Homo sapiens: one gene and its partner. The protein of the gene in region 1 purifies or fractionates together with the protein of each later gene. This does not show direct contact. Each region holds a gene or a part of one and is shown on either strand. Other genes may lie near its edges. The genes, in order: CCR2 and POTEE.

The links.
Region 2: the proteins of CCR2 (region 1) and POTEE purify together in Homo sapiens (affinity purification with mass spectrometry; 2 studies listed by BioGRID and IntAct, with this or other methods). This does not show direct contact.

What each region holds. Positions count from the first base shown.
Region 1 is NC_000003.12:46,349,128-46,357,480, reverse strand, and holds the start of CCR2 (C-C chemokine receptor type 2), read right to left. Parts: upstream 3,371-8,353; 5' UTR 3,304-3,370; intron 5-3,303; 5' UTR 1-4. UniProt on the Homo sapiens protein: Key functional receptor for CCL2 but can also bind CCL7, and CCL12. Also transduces signaling mediated by CCL13.
Region 2 is NC_000002.12:131,246,894-131,255,313, reverse strand, and holds part of POTEE (POTE ankyrin domain family member E), read right to left. Parts: intron 4,537-8,420; coding exon 4,466-4,536; intron 2,789-4,465; coding exon 2,744-2,788; intron 2,397-2,743; coding exon 2,215-2,396; intron 1-2,214.

The DNA of each region.
Region 1 (8,353 bases):
TGTTCTGTAAACAAAGAACAAAATGATGACCACACAACACAAACACCGCAATCCATGATCTTCCAAATAGTCTGGCACCACATAAGCAACTTCCCAGTCTTTGCCCTCTCCCTTGCAGCCATCTCCCTGAAAGCATGTGTGCCAGTTCCTGATTTGCCTTTCATTCCTAGTGGCAGACATCAATGATTTACCCAACAGCCATTTTCCGACACCCTTTATCTTCCCCAGCAAACCAGATTCTCATTTTCAGGCTAAAAGCGCTGGGCGTTTGTTTTCTCTGGCTCCTTTGCAGGTGGTGCATAGGTCTGTGACTCATTGCTGGACCATAATATGAAAAGGGAGTCTGCTGGGGGCTTCTGAGAAAGCTCTTCTTCCCTGATAAGACAGACACAAGAGAACCCTCCACCTGCCCCTCCTGCTCTGGCAGCATGCCTAGTGAGGGCATGGTGCCATGAATGGAAGACCTAGAGAACCATGAGAAGCCAGGCAGAATCCTATTATCACTGAGTCCTAAACCCACCCTTGAACTATTCACCTTCTGCCTTCTTTTTTTTTTTTTTTTGGAGACGGAGTCTCGCTGTGTCTCCAGGCTATAGTGCAGTGGCCATGATCTCAGCTCACTGCAACCTCCACCTCCTGGGTTCAAGTGATTCTCCTGCCTCAGCCTCCTGAGTAGATGGGACTATAGGCGTGCACCACCATGCCCCGCTAATTTTTGTATTTTTAGTAGAGATGGGGATTCACCATGTTGGCCAGGATGGTCTCGGTCTCTTGACCTCCTGATGCACCCGCCTTGGCCTCTCAAATTGCTGGGAGAAAAACAAGCCCCTGTTTTAAAGCCATTATGAACTGCATTTTCTGTTCTCTGAAGTCAAAAACGTTCTAACTGATGATTCTCTCAGCTTTCTGCCTCCATCATCCTGCCAAAACTTCTCTTGTTAAGATTGCAGTGACAACCCAATTTTTCAAATGCCCTGGTTTTATTCCAATTCCACCCTCTTCAAGTATTTGATCCTTCTGCTAACTTCCTCCATTTACAATTCTTTTTGGCTTCCAGATGGGAGGGGCTGTGCTACCGCTTTTTATTCATGTTCTTTGCTGGCATCTCCTCCCCGTGCCCACACCTTAAGATTCCCCAGGCACCACACTTAGCTCTCACCTCTTTAATTTTTTGCCTCTTTATCCTTGCTACAAAGTTCTTCCTGAATTGTATTGTCTAAACTCATGGTTCCTACTCCCTTCTATGCTACTGTTTTCTAAAGCTCTGTCTTCAAGCTCCAGCTTTCCCCTAAGCCTTAGAGTTGAATTTCCCATTGCCTGATGCATATCTCCCCATGCATGTATTCACTGCATCAACACTTATTGAACACCTACTATGAACCATACTCAGTTTTAGGCACTGAAGTGAGCAAAGTGGGTATCATGCAGGGACCTCAAATTCAACCCACCCCAAATGGGGCACTGCTGAAAACTCCTTCCGATTGTGGATTCCTCCATTGCCTAAGAAGCAAAATTGGGCATTGCCCTGGGTTGCTTCTCCTTCTGAAAATTAGGAGCCAGTTTTTGGAGCCAAACAAACCTGGATTTGAATCCTTATAGGCAGTGTAATCTGGGGCCAATTACTCCTTCAAGTGCCGATTTCTTTATGCATAAAATATTAACTATGCTGAGTTGCTGTGAAGATCAATGGAGTAAGGACTTAGGACAGCATCTGACACAGAGAAATGCCCTGTATTATTATCATGTCATTTGAGTTCCACCTCATAGATGCCTCTCAGATTCATCCCCTCTGCACTGCTTTCAACTGTCACTTTCTTGCTTCACACACTCCTCACTCCTGGCTTTGTTGTAGTCTTTCCTTTGCTCATGGCTCATCTCAAGCCATGTTCCCTCTCAACCTATCTTCTCTTAAGTTGAAATTGAATAGTCACTCTTAGCTTAAAACCTCCAGTAGCCCTATGACTTATATGTGGTGGGCTTCAAAGATAATGTCCAGACTGCCCAGCACAACATCTTTTCTGAGTTTGCCTCTTTTCAGCCTCACCTCCAGTCCCTTCTCCAATCCCAAATCCTGTGCTTCAGTCACAGCCATCTTCTCTTCATTTTCCCTAAACTCACCATTTCCTTCATGCTTCAGTGGTTTTGCAGGTCCTTGCCCCTCTGCCCAAAATGATTGGTGAGCTTCTATTCACCCTTCAATACCTCCTGCTCAAATCCCCCTTCTCTGTGAAGCCTAATCTGTATCCTCTGTCATATTACTCTTATCACATAACACTGCATGCATCTAGATAAGCACTTATTATGTTATCTGCTACACACAGCATGTTCCTCAAGATCAAGGACTGGATTATGCTTCTATTTTCAGCTCTTATGATAGTACCTGGCTAAAGGAGGCACCAATAAATGTTCACTGAATGAGTACATAAAACTCTTTATAATAAGAACTATAAGCCCTAACATCATCAGGACTTGATTCTCAAGAATTTTTTTTCTGGCAGTGACTGTGAATTTCTTTTCCACCCACCTGTATACTTTATCCTTCCATTTCTCTTGCAATTGACACTTTTCACAAGTCTTGTATTTCATATCACTGAGCCAGATTCTTGAAATCTGGAGAAGCTAAATAAGACCTCTGATCAAAGTTGGAAAAAAATGCATCTGCCTAAAGAATCACAACTGTGGTCATTAATTGAGTGCTCCTGAAGCTCAGATGCTATGTTAAATGCTGTGCACACATTACTTAATTTCATTTTTACAACTGGCTAGCATGTAGCTTCTACTACAGTGAACAATGAGCAAGATGCCTGAAATGTGCTGTCCTAGGTGTCATTTCAAGTGTCAGAACATGTCACCCAGAACTGATAGAAATCTATCTTTCAGAAAATAAATTCCTTACTTCTGCCTCTGTGGATCTCCTGAGTTGAGGCAAGGGACACATTTTGGTTCAGAGCTTGGATGGTCCTATATTTAGACTAACAGTTCCAGCTCTTTAACGTCCTTGGGTGCTCAGAGGGGCAGAGTGAGCCCCTGGGTGTGTGGACTGGTGACTGAGCAGAGTGGCTGTCCTGGCCTCGCTTGCTGCCCACTCTCCCCCATCACCTGCTGCACGCTGCTCTTCCTCAGGGTTTCTCTAACATCTCCTGGTGCACATGCCATCCCCACCCCTGCCTCTCATCTTGATCATTCCCCCCAAGTGTGCAGGCTTTGCAGTTCCCCAGGGTGTACCCAGACCCGGCATTTCCAGCTTTGAGGTGCGTTGAGCCTATGAATCAGAAAGTAATGGAAAAAATGCCTACAACTCACCAGCTTGTGGCTTGTCTCAGGCAGTCCTGGTATGTCAGGCTTCTCAGCAACTGAACCAAACAGATCTAGAGGTAGAAACTTGGCATGCAGAAGTAGGAAATAAAGTTTCCTGCAGAAAGTGAAGGCGGAGATACAGGGCAACTAATGGTAAAGATTTGAAAAAAAAAATCAGAAAAATATAGTTCTTCTTTTCCAGTCAGGAACATTGTACATTGGGTTGAGGTCTCCAGAATAGGATTAATTTTGAAATCTTGCTTATGCAACCTTGAGTGTGAGTCAGGCAAACCCTGTACATCTGCTCCTGTTTCTAACGACTCTGAGCTTCTTTATCTTGTGGGTCTTTATACCTGGAACATTTCCACTCTCTGCTCTCCTACTAGTGATAATTTGCATGATATGAGCACAACAGAATGTTTCATGTTCCAGAGAATAAAGGGTATTGGTGATAGTGGAGGAAGTATAATGAGGTTTTACTGCGATCATGTGTGCTGGTTTCAGTGGTATCATGGATTCAGAATCTGGTTAGAAATTTCATTTAGATAAGACTTTAAAATTTTTTTTTATTTAATTCACATAATAATTGTATATATTTATGGGACACAATGTGATGTTTTGCTACATGTATACATTGTGCAATGATCAAATCAGGGTAATTACATATCCATCCTCTGAAACATTTATCATTTCTTTTGAAATAATAATGATATTGAAAACCCTCTCTTCTAGCTATTTATATATACAGAATTCATTATTAACTACCGTCACCCTACTTGGAGCAGAGCACCAGCACTTGTTTCTCCTATCTCATGGTAACTTTGTACCCGTTGATCAACTGCTGCCCATTCTCACCTCCTCTCTTTCCTCCCCAGTCTCTGGTAACCACTGCTCTACTGTCTTTTTCTAAGATAGCAACTTTTTTTTTTTTTTTAAATTGGGTTTCATTCTGTCACCCAGACCGGAGTGCACTGGCACAGTCTCAGCTCACTGCTACCTCCACCTTCTGAGTTCAAGCCATCCTCCCACCTCAGCCTCCTGAGTAGCTAGGATTACAGGTGTGTGCCATCATGCCCGGCTAAGCAACTTATTTAAAAAAAAATTCCACATAAGAGTGAGATCACGTGGTATTTGTCTATCTGTGTGTGGCTTATTTCACTTAACATCCTCTAGGTTCATCCACATTATCACAAATTACAGGATTTCAAACTTTTTAATGAAAAGGAAATGCTAAATTATCTCTTGTGTCAGGAACGTCCTTAGCAAGAAGAACCTCAGTTATTTTAAATGCCCCTCCTTGGAAAGACGTTTTGTTAAAAGATAATGTAAATTTTGCAATGGGGACATCAGACTAGGAGCATTCCTAAGATTGTGCAGAGAACATGGTGTCATCTAAGTTGGCCCCTGGCACTTTCTGGAATCCAGCAGACACCGGAGGCAGGATCTCATGCTGTGGACTTGGCAAGTTTCTAAGTTTCCATTTCCCAAATATGAAATATGAATAACAAGACTGGGGGTCTATGAGGGTAAATGGACCTAAAGCAGCTAGAGCAGGGTCTGGCAGGCACTCCACAGGTAACAAACAGAACAGAACAGTCTGAGCCCTGCAGAGTGCCAGAGGTTGAAGGATGCATCCACTGCTAGAGCCAACAACAATCAAATGCTCAGGGCAGTCCAGGTGTCCTTTCCAGATTTCAAGAAGTTGGCTTTTTTGCTGTTGTTGTTGTTGTTGTTGTTGTTGTGTTATGTTGTGTTTTTGCTTTCTTTTGCGACAAGATCTTGCTCTGTTGCCTAGGCTGGAGTGCGGTGGCATGATCATGCTTCACTGCAGTCTCAACCTCAAGCAATCCTCTCATCTCAGCCTCCCAAGTAGCTGAGACTACAGGTGCATGCCACCATGCCTGACTATTTTTTGTAGAGATGGGGTTTTGTCATGTTGCCCGGGCTGGTCTCGAACTCCTGGGCTCAGGCAATCTGCCTGCCTCAGCCTCCTGAAGGGCTGGGATTACAGGTGTGAGCTCCTACACCCAGCCCAGATTTCAGTCAGTTGTAACCATGTGTCCTGTGTAAGACCTGGTATATGTGCTAAGTAAGACCTGAGACTTGAAGGGTCTCAGGTTTTTTCTTGGAAGACAGCTCATTGCCTGTTCAGGAACATAGCAAGTTCCCCAGTTGTCTCTCAATGTGTCTCTGGGCCGGAATTGGAGCATATCTCTGAGATTTCAATAATAAGACAGGTCATCCCTGACCTGGTAACACTGAGCTTGCTGCCACTTCTGGAATCTCCTGACCCTGGCATCTTGCCACCTGTTCCTATGATTCAACCCAGGATGGGGAAGAGCAAGAGCCAGAAATTTTGCTCTGGCTGATTAGGACCGCTCTCCAATTTTGTCTTCACATTGTGATCTTTGTCTCCAGCCCTGTAATTTCATAAACAAGGAGAGGCACAGAGGTAGATAGTTGCAGAGCCAGGATTCAAACCTTTGGCTTATACTGACACAGAGGGCAGGATAACAGAGGGCACCCTCCGCTGAGATTTTGAAGAGACAGTATAGAATGAAAATATTTTTGGAGGGGTGAGCAGGCTTAAAAGAAGCAACAGGGATGGTGAGGTGGTCTGTCATCCCTATGCTTTGTGGGAGACCAGAATTTGACACCCTAAAATGTACCTCTTTTGCATAAGGATTGTTGAGCTGAAGGCAATTAAGAAGCAGATGAAGGAAAGCTCTTTTCCCTCCCTTTATTTGTCTAAAAGCAGGATATAGACTTACAAAGACAAAACGGATCTGCACCCCCCTCCACACCTTCTGCCAGGGTGAACAAAGGTTCACCACTGAAGACAAATTTAAATCCTTGTGGACCTGGAGATGGCACCAGAGGAATCTTCATTAACAAGTATTACTAACCAGCCTTTACCTCCATTTATTCCTTTTGCCTTCCTACAAGTCACTGTCCCTAGAGGCTCAAAGTTCATTTTCTTTGTCTTGTCATATCTCTAAAATGTTACTGAACTTTGTTGAAGATGCTATATGAGCTGGAATTCAAAGTCACCTTTTTAAGAATTATTCATTCCCTGGATAGCTCCTATGTACGTATAAAATATGTACGTTAATAAACTTTTCTCGTGTTAATCTGTCTTTTGTTACAGGGGTCCATTCCAAGAACTTATGAGCATTGAGGAAAAAATTATTTTTTTCTTCCTTAACAGCTAGAAGGATCAAAAGAATAAACAATACCACTTGAGTGCTACAGACAGCTGGAATTGAGAGCTGCAGGTTGATGGCTCAGCCACTGCTAGAAGTTCAGCAAAGCAGTAGGACAGCAGGGGCAGAAAGTATCCTAACCTCCTTCTCCCACTCTGACCTCCTACCAGTGCTTCCCAGTGACTGAACCAGATGGGAAGAGGGAATAATGGACAGTCTAGGCAATGTAGCCCCTAAAATCAGCATCCTGGGACTCAGAGTGGATCTGGGGGAGTGTGGCAAATAACCACACAACCGTCAAGTCAAACAAATTTTTTTCTTGCAACTTTCTTCTTACCTCGTCCATATATTAATAGATAGTTAGAAAATTGGGAATCTTGATCAGTACATCTTAGAATTCTTTATGCACACGGAGAGAGTTAAAAAGGATGTTTTTTCATGAGTTTGAGAATTCTGTATCTACCCATTGGCACTGGGTTCATGGTTTCTAAGGTTCCCAGTCTCAATGATGAGTATGGCCCTTCGAGCAGGCTTGAAGGAAAGTATGTCACAAGCCACTGAGCTCTGATGTGCCTGCTGACCAAGCAGGATTACATAGAAGGCAGGGCTGTGGTCACCTCAAGGTGACATGGGGCAAGGAAGAGGAGAAGCTCAATTTTTCTGCAAGCCAATGATATGAGAATAGTTTATGCTCCCCAAATAACAAAAGAAGACCCAGAATGCTGGCCCTAAGATGTTTAAGATCTTGTTTATTTTTACACTCAAGGTCAGCAGTTGAGTTGGGGATTAGGCCATTGAAACTGAAAGTTAGAGTTGTACTCAGAACCTCTCTGCCACTCCATGGATGGCAAGAACATGTGAGAGAAAGCATAGCTAGAGAGAATTGGTGGTGGGGCAAGAAGACAGAAAAGGTTTTTCAACAGCCTGAAGTACTTTAACGATGCCCTTAGCAATTTCCTAAGTAATGGGCAATAGATTTGTTCAGTTAGTGCCTTTAGAAAATAGAGAAATTCTTGCCTCTTGTCAACACAGATGCTTTTGGTTCATTGCGGTTTTTATGGTTTGCATGCTTCCTGTGACCTACTAAAATAGATTAGTGAGTTCTAGGATTTTACATCTTCAATTCTGGTTAAACATGATCTGGACCAATATGATGCCCACAGAAAAAGCAGTAATTATGTTCCTACCTATCCTGGTCAAGTCTTCATAATAAAAATGAAGCAAACTATTACCACTGTTTTTGTCACAAATGAAAAAGTAACACAACAGGGCATAGAGTCACAGCAAGAAAGCCCAGCAACTGCAAATGATTCTTGGAAAGGAAGTGTCAACTAGCAGAGGGCAGATAAGAATTTCTCCTCCATCTTCTAAGTTCAACTTTGTCTCCAGATGAACCAGGAGTAGACAAGAATGTATGATTAGAAATAGAAATTAAAAGAACAAAATGGTAATTTTGACTTAGAGTGTAAATGCAGCAGATTAGATGTCATACCTTTAGGCCAAACAAACTGTAGGAGAAAAAAGGGGAAATCAGAATCTTTAATACATGTACTTGCTAAAAAGCTGTCTCAAGTGACGGAAAGAAATTCATTTGAACCCTATAGTAGGAATTCTTTTGTAGCCTAGATGTTTTAAATGTCTCTGTGATTAAGATCTCAGTATAGATGCCTCAGAGGTAGCCTGCTCTAGGGAGGAATCTGTGGCTGGGGATAGGCCAAGACAGGTATTTAGAAGGCATTTATAGATGTCCCCAAGACTTGGCAACAGCAGGTTGGGAGCCGAGTCTGGGAGTGAGAAGCTAAGATTCATACTCCCCACCAGCATATTCCCTGACACTAAGCTTGGTGAGTAGA
Region 2 (8,420 bases), on another chromosome or scaffold:
GTGATAATCTTGAGGAAAAATAGTTCTGGAGGAGTGCTGAAATTGAAGACTTACCGGCATTGAGATCAAGAGTGAATGGAAAGAAAATTTGAGTTCATGAGTGTAGACAGTTCTTTAAGGACAATATACTTAACGCTCATGACTGAGAATGATGTAATTTTCATCCACAGTCATGGAAAAGTGATAGACAAGAAATAGTAGCTTCCAAATTTTACATACCAGGTGGAGTTTTCAAATTTTATGTAACCATTATATATTCTAAAGGTTATAAAAATTATACACATATGGCATTTAGAAATGTCAGACCAAGGTTTTAAAGGCCCTTTGAACATTTCTAGATTACATAAGCTGATTATCATTTTGTTCATGCTTATACATAAAGACCAAGAAATACTAAAACTCTCAAGGAGAATATTTCTTGCTTGATAAAAATCAGCCAATTCTAGGACAGTTGACACTCATCAAATATACGAAGTAATTGATCACAGTAAAATACTGAGTTCTATTAACAGGAATAAAGTGGGAGAAATGCAGAAAATAATCTTATTTTATAAATGTAGTTTTCCAAATCATATGAAGTCACTGGAAAAATATGGTGAGGTGAATACTGAAATATATCCTTTTCTCAAAGGGAGGATAATGTCACACATGCAGGGCACTTTTACAAATAAAAGTCACTGCATTAGCAGCACCTTCCTTTTAGCACAAGGGTCAGCAAATAAGCACCTGTGGGCCAAATCCAGCCCACTGCCCGTTTTTGTAAGTCAAGTATCTTGGAACACAGCCATGCTTATTCACTTTACAGTCCATAGTGTCAGTTAGCTGGGTGTGATGTTGCACACCCGTGGTCTCAGCTAGTAGAGACTGAGGTCAGAGGATCACTAGAGCCCAGAAAGTCGAGGCTGCAGTCAGCCATGATCACACAACTGCACTCCAGCCTGGGAAACAGAGTGAGACCCTGTCTCAAGAAAATCAATATATGTAGTCCACAAAGCCTAAAATATTTACTAACTAGCTCTTTGCAGAAAAAGCTGGCCAACTCCTGGTTTAGTAGATCAAAGATTCTTTGATGTATTTTAATAAAAGTTTTACCAAATATACTGAAATGTTTATATTAAATATAGATCCCCATGTACAATCGCTTGGCAATATTCAGATTGAGGGTCCAATATTTCAGCACTCAGGCACTGACAACAAAAATTTAGTAACTAGCAATCTTGTTGCTAACAAGGTACAGTGTCAATGTAGCATGTAGCTTCCATTTGCAACACAGCAGATATTACAAGAATTTTAACAAGAACTCTTAAGATGTGTCATCAAACTAAACGCTTTAAATACATTTTAATTGTGAAATAATCAGTATACCCTACATCTAACCTCATTTTTTAAAAATGGTTGCATAATACATTATTTTGGGGATATGGAAATTGAGCTATTTCCTATTGATAAGGAATTAGACTAGCTCCAAATTTTTTACATAATACTATAATAAATGTCCTTATACATAAGTATACATATAACATATCTATACAAATATCCTTTACATGTATTATATATGCTTACTGTTATATATGTGTGTGTGAATATGCTACTCAATTAATGTTCAAAATGTATTTACCAACAGTATATGAAATGTCTTTTTCAATGAAACCATTTCCCCTGCAGCAACACGGATGGAGCTGGAGGCCATTATCCTAAGAAAACTCATGCAGGAACAGAAAATCAAATGCCACATATTCTTACTCATTAGCGGGAACTAAACATGAGAACTCATGGACACAAAGAGGAGAATAACATACACTGGGGCCTACTTGAGGGAGGAGCATGGCAGGAGGGAGACGACCAAAAAACTACCTTTCGAGTATTTTGTTTACTATGTGGCTGGTGAAATAATCTGTACCCCAAGCCTCCATGATACAGTTTACCTATATAATAAACCTGCACACGTACCCCGAAGCTAAAATAAAAGTTCACTGAAAAGAGAAGAAAATGCCTTTTCCCTCACATTTGCCAATACTGGTTATTTTTCAAATAAATTAATGACTGGAAAAAAAACGGTAACTGATTGTTTGCTGATTTTCATTTTTCTGATTAACAGGCAAGGCTCAATATCCTAATAAAAGTATAAAATTTGTTCATCATGAATATTAGCTCAAATTAGGATTAGTTTGGCAGCACAAAGTTACCTCCTGTTCAATGTTGCCATAGGCTTACCTGTGATACTCTTCATTCTCAGTGTCAGGAAATTGCTGGCTTTCAGGTGTTCTGCTCTTCCTTGGAGGAATTAATCCATCATCACCATTGCCAGCAGTGGCACCATTAGTCAGGTTTTCTGGGAATCCGACATGAGTACTTCCGTGCTTCTTCATTTCTTCGATAGCCATAAAATTTTCTAGCTGGAAAATACAGAGAATAAGAAATTATCTACTTTAGGCACATTATCTATTGATAATCAGACTAAAACCAAGAAAGATAAAATAATTGGTCTAAAGCTCCTAAAGTGGCATTACCTAGCATTTTATGGCACCATTCGGGATTATTCCATAATAATGAAAGAATAGCTCTAGGGTTTGCACCTCTTCAAAATTCAATGTACAGAATTCTGAGTTAACTATTTAATTTTTCACTGATGATTTATGCTACTTACATGATAGGATCATGTATGCCTACATTTACTACACTTTGTTAAACAACATAATGTAAAAATCTAATTCAACACAAACGTTTGAATATAAAGGTATACCTCTCTATCACCATCCTTATTTATTTCTGGTTCTTGAGATCTTTTCTGCAGATGTAAAAACAGAAGGTTAATTTGCTTGCTGTATTTCTGTGACATTTCCTCTTTTGGAGTGCATGTTTTTAAAATAATTTTATTCTGAAGTAATCAAGTATGGACAATAAAAATTAGAAAGTAATTAAAATTAAACTGTTAAAATAAATAATAATTAAAATTAAGAATTAACTTTTTAATCTATGTTTAGCTACTGCCACATCACTGGCTTCTAACATGTGAAAAATAATTCACCTTAGACAAAGGGAGAAGAAAAACATGAACCAGCAAACTTAACTTTCTCACTATTTGTTTGGACTAAATTTAATTTGTTATGTGTTAAATCTACCAAAAATGAATCAGCAGATGATTTGTAGTGTTCCAAAATCTTCCTCACTTGAAAAGAGTTTACCTCATGAAACCCTAACTAGTGAGCACCTACAGTGCACTGAAGTGCTTTTTTAAAAGATTCCTAACTGGATTGTAGGCACCCTTTAAACTATTAGGAGCCGAAATCAACACCAAACAGAAAGAAATGCAAATTCTCACATTTTAATTGAAATTATATACTGTCATATGATAGTGTTATGTATCCAGATTATCTGCGTAAGTCCAGTTCTAATATATTCTAATGTGTACTAATGACAGCAGATAAAATTTTTTAATCTCTACTGATTTTCTGCAACTGAAATAAATTAGAATGTTATTGTGTTTGTGCACTAACACCAAAGGTCCCATTCTGCAAGATATGGTTCTTGTAATAGGCAGTTGGGTTGCTTTTATGACCTGGTTCCCTCCCTGAACAGAAACACTGAGGTCAACGAGAGACCACAAGGCAGGATATGTCCTTAACCTTGGTATCAGTGACTGACAATATAAAACTGTGGATTTTCAATCACAGGCCATGATTACTCTTTAACCATGAATCCAGCTCAGGGAATCAGTGTTACATTGTTCATAATTCCTATTGCTTAATAATATGATTCAATCATTGATGTTACTTTCTTTATCATGTTAGGGTGTTGTAAAAATAAAAGAACAAACAAAGTTCTGAAATTTGTTTTTGCCTCTATTCCAAAAGGAGAGATTAGCTATAAGCTAATCAAGAAGGCAGATAAGAATATTTTAAAATAAGAGTATTTTAAATTTTATAGTGGGTTATGTTGAAGTTAAATATCAAATATTAAATTAGAATCTATTGATTCTTCTGTTAATAAGGTTGCTGATTTTATTACAATAAATTTTAAGAATCTATTAAAATTTTTTTTTTTTTTTTTCACATGGAGTCTCGCTCTGTCACCCAGGCTGGAGTGTAGTGGTGGATGTCGGCTCACTGCAAGCTCCCTCTCCTGGGTTCATGCCATTCTCCTGCCTCAGCCTCCCGAGTAGCTGGGACTACAGGCACCCACCACCACGCCCAGCTAAGTTTTTGTATTTTTACTAGAGACGGGGTTTCACCATGTTAGCCAGGATGGTCTCGATCTCCAGACCTCGTGATCCACCTGCCTCAGCCTCTCAAAGTGCTGGGATTACAGGCGTGAGCCACCTTGCCTGGCCAAAAGATTCTTAAAAAAACAATCTACTGATTCTCAAAGCCTAGTCTGAAAGGTAATTTCATTTGGACTATCTAATATTATTAAGGCAAAAAAAACACAACATTAAACAAAAGTTTAAATTTAAAAGTTTCCATGCCTCTGGCTGGCCATTTTCACTGCCTTTAAGCCTTTGTGACTCTTCCTCTGATGTCAGCTTTAAGTCTTGTTCTGTTGAAAAATCCATACATTCAGTTAAAATCAACCACTTAAAACAGTTAAAAACTATTGCCTTTTAAAAACAGATTTGAGACATTTCATTTTATTTCATAAATTGAGTGTTTCATCTTTTGTGAAATTGTCATTTAAGAAATAATTCTCAAAAACTTCAAAAACCCACTTGGGGAGATAGCAGATGTCACCAGATTGAAGACAAACAAACATGTCAAAAATTCCCTCACAAATTCATCCACCCAACATCCATGAACAAAACCACCAGAAACACAGCTTTAAAATACAGTAGAAACATATAAGGTGACACAGTGTACTGTTCTCCACTTCCTAATAGTACCTTATAAATGATTTCCAAAATCACTGCTGACACCTTTATTAGTGTACAACATCTTCCTAATATCTAAAATGTTTCTCTCCACTATTCTGACAAATTTATTTTCTTTTTTTCTTTTTTCTTTTTTTTTTTTTATGAGCTAGAGTCTTCCTCTGTCACCAGGCTGGAATGCAGTGGTGTGATCAGCTCACTGCAACCTCCGCGACCCTGGTTCAAGTGATTCTCCTGCTTCAGTCTCCTGAGTAACTGTGATTACAGGCAAGCACCACCACACCCAGCTGATTTTTGTATTTTTAGTAGAGATGGGGTTTCACCATTGGACAGGATGGTCTCGATCTCCTGACCTCGTGATTCCCTCTGAAAGTGCTGGGATTACAGGTGTGAGCCACCACACCTGGCCTTATTTTCATCTTTTGAAACAATGCTATATGAAGTTTTCCTTGATTCTGCATGTCTTTCCCCAAATAAACAGGTACCTCCTTCCTTGAGGCTGCCTTAGTACTTTACTGATTTTTCTACTGCATCTTGACCACCTAAACTGTACATTATTCCTCCACGTCTGTCCCCTCTGCTCCAAGACTGCAGGGGAGAGTCTTGCACATCATCTTTGTAAAAACAGTCTTTGTTTTACTCAGAAATATTTTATTGAGTCCTGCTAAATACATGCTAGGCATTAGGGTTTAAAAAGAATTAAAATAAAGCATGTCAGAGATGGCTTTTCTAGAACACATGCCCAAGCAGAGACTTAAATATTGAGACTAGCCAGATTAAAAGGTGTAGAGGGCAGGAAAGGGTGACGGCATGCCACGCAGCAGCAAGAGCGGGAGCGACTCCTGAAAGAGTGAAAGTATTTGCCTACAATAGAAGGATGAGTGAGTAGGGCACTGCCAGCAGTTCAGTAATGCCAGAGACAGGGCACACAGGGAAAAGGGCTAAAGATGGAGAGTGGGGCAGAAGTCAGATTATGAAAGCATTATGTGTAATTTTAAGATGCTTGAACATTAATGTTCAAAAGTGGTCCCGGGTCCTATCTGCATTTAGATATAGATCATTTCAATGCCAAAACCAATATTCCTAGTGAACAATTATTCATTAAGACAAGGTGACAGATAGCTCATGTGGACACAGCTGAGATGATACAATGTAGCAAATTCTAAACAATTCTCATGAACACTTGGAAAGTCAGTTCTATAATAAAGTCATACAAATTATAATAAATCAGTAAATATTTGGTTTCGGAAGATGCTTTGTAAAGTTATAATGCATATGAATACAATTAACAGTCGTGAATTCAGAGCTGTGAAAATAAATCAAAGAAACCACATTGTGTTTGAGTCAGCAATCTTTAGATTTCTATCCAGTCTTCCCATCCAGTCCATAAATTCTAAGTATAATCCTGGTACTCACTCTCAAGTTTACGTTAAATACTATCCCATTACAAAAAAACACTCTTTCTCTTACTTCTTTTCATTATGTCCTGCTAAAAAGATTCTGATTGGCTGCAGGCGGCAAGAGGGAAAAACACAAAGCACATTTTGCAGAAAATGATTATTTAGAAGTCAGAACTATGACATGAAGCCAAGCAGGGCACTCTAGGACCGAATTTGCTGTGCTGCCTTCATACGCTCCTTGCTCTTTCTTTTCTGGCAGCTGTGACTCACACAGGTCATGGAGAGTATCATTCCCTAAGAGGAACAACTCCGATATTCATCTTTATCTATTAAGTTCATCTGTCCCAATTCTGTGTTCTGTGGATGCTGACTTTCTGTCACGGACGATGATGCACATGGACATTTATTACTGACTTTCAGATTCTTGGATCTTTGACAAGTCTTATTACTTAGAGTCAAACTAGTAGGATGCGAGTTATAAATGCTGATTATCCAATTACCTACTCAAAATACCCTACACGAATATTCCATTAAACATGCATCGAAAAACATTAGTCATTCCTGCTGACCTGCTGCTCTTTGCTCTTCTGTATTCACCAGAAAATTTCCTACTCCTTCCTCATGTCCAGGTTAAATACTAGTGTGCAATCTGGAAACCTGTACATCATCTGAGATTTCTCTCTGTCCCCCAAGCCTTTCTCATTCAATTATCACTAAATCATATTGACTATACCTCTCTTCTGCCTCTGTTTTATATTCCCACTGCCACTGGGAACACAAACATTTACAAAATGACTTCTATTTAAAAGAAAACTGCCAACTATTAATGTTATTTCTTACAGGAAAAAAAATTAAGCAAAACAAGTGAAAAGGGCATAACGAAGGCCAACATAGTAAAATGAGTAACTGAGATTTCTAACGTTATTTATTTCACCATGGACGGGTGAAAACCTTGTAATACATTGATGCTACTCCAAGGATGTGTGACATGGAAACTATAGCTGACTACTGCAAAAGCTTCCTTTGTCTCCTGGTTTCTTTGCATGATTATCTCCCATCAATCCCAGGAAACTATAGGCCACAGGCCAAATCCAATCTGCATTATGGTTTTGTAAATAAAGTTTTATAGGAGCTCAGTCATGCCTGTTTGCTTACATATAATCATGGTGGCTTTCACACTACAACAGCAGACAACAGCACGGTTAAGTAGATATGACAGAGACCACATAGTCCAAAATATTTCCCACCTGGTCCTTTAAAGAAAAAGCTTGCTAACCCATTTTACACCATAACCAGAATGCCTTAATACTCAAATTTAATCTTGTGGCTCCCCTGCTCAAATTTCTCCAATGAGCCCCCTCCAGCACACATTGTTGGCTCCCTATCAATAGCCATTCCTCATTCTTTCTGGCAGAAAAAACATAAGTCTATTGGGATATTTAATATCCCAATCCCCCTCCTCAGCCTCAGAAAGAAATGTTTATTCTAAGCTAATCAGATATTTACCTTCCCAGTGCCTGGTTTGGGAATGAGCATGTGGTATGACCCAGCCAATGAAATGTTACAGGAAGCCCCTTGCATGCTTCTAAGTTTTCTCCCTGTTTAAAAGACACATGTGAAGAAAAGCAGCCCTTTCGATGTTGTGTTGTGAAAACAAGATGTTTGGAGCTGCTGCAGATTAGCCAACCACAAAAGGAGACGTGAATAAAACACTGTCAACAGCACAGCTGAAAGAGGGACAAGTGGGATCCCTAGGATATCAATGAACAAAAAAACAACTCTGGTTCCTAGTGTTTTAGGCACTGCTCATCTAGTATTTGCAGTCCAAAGCATTCTACCTGGTAAATTTCCCATGGCCCACAGGAAAAGACCTACTCATTTCTATAGTATTAAAAAGTCTATCGTAAACTTGCCTTAGCTAAGTATTCACCTCACTCCCAACCTCTGGTATCTCACACTTTTGGTACTAGCAAAAGTGAACTGCTCAGAAACCCTGCCATGTTCACTCAAGCATCTTGTCTTCTGCACTTGCTGCTCTTCCTCCCAAACGGGCAATCTCATTAGATGTTCCTTCTGGCAAACACACTATCTCACTCCATGTTCCTTCTGCCAAATGTCATTCCTCTGCTTCTTTCCCTGAAAAATTCTTCTCACTC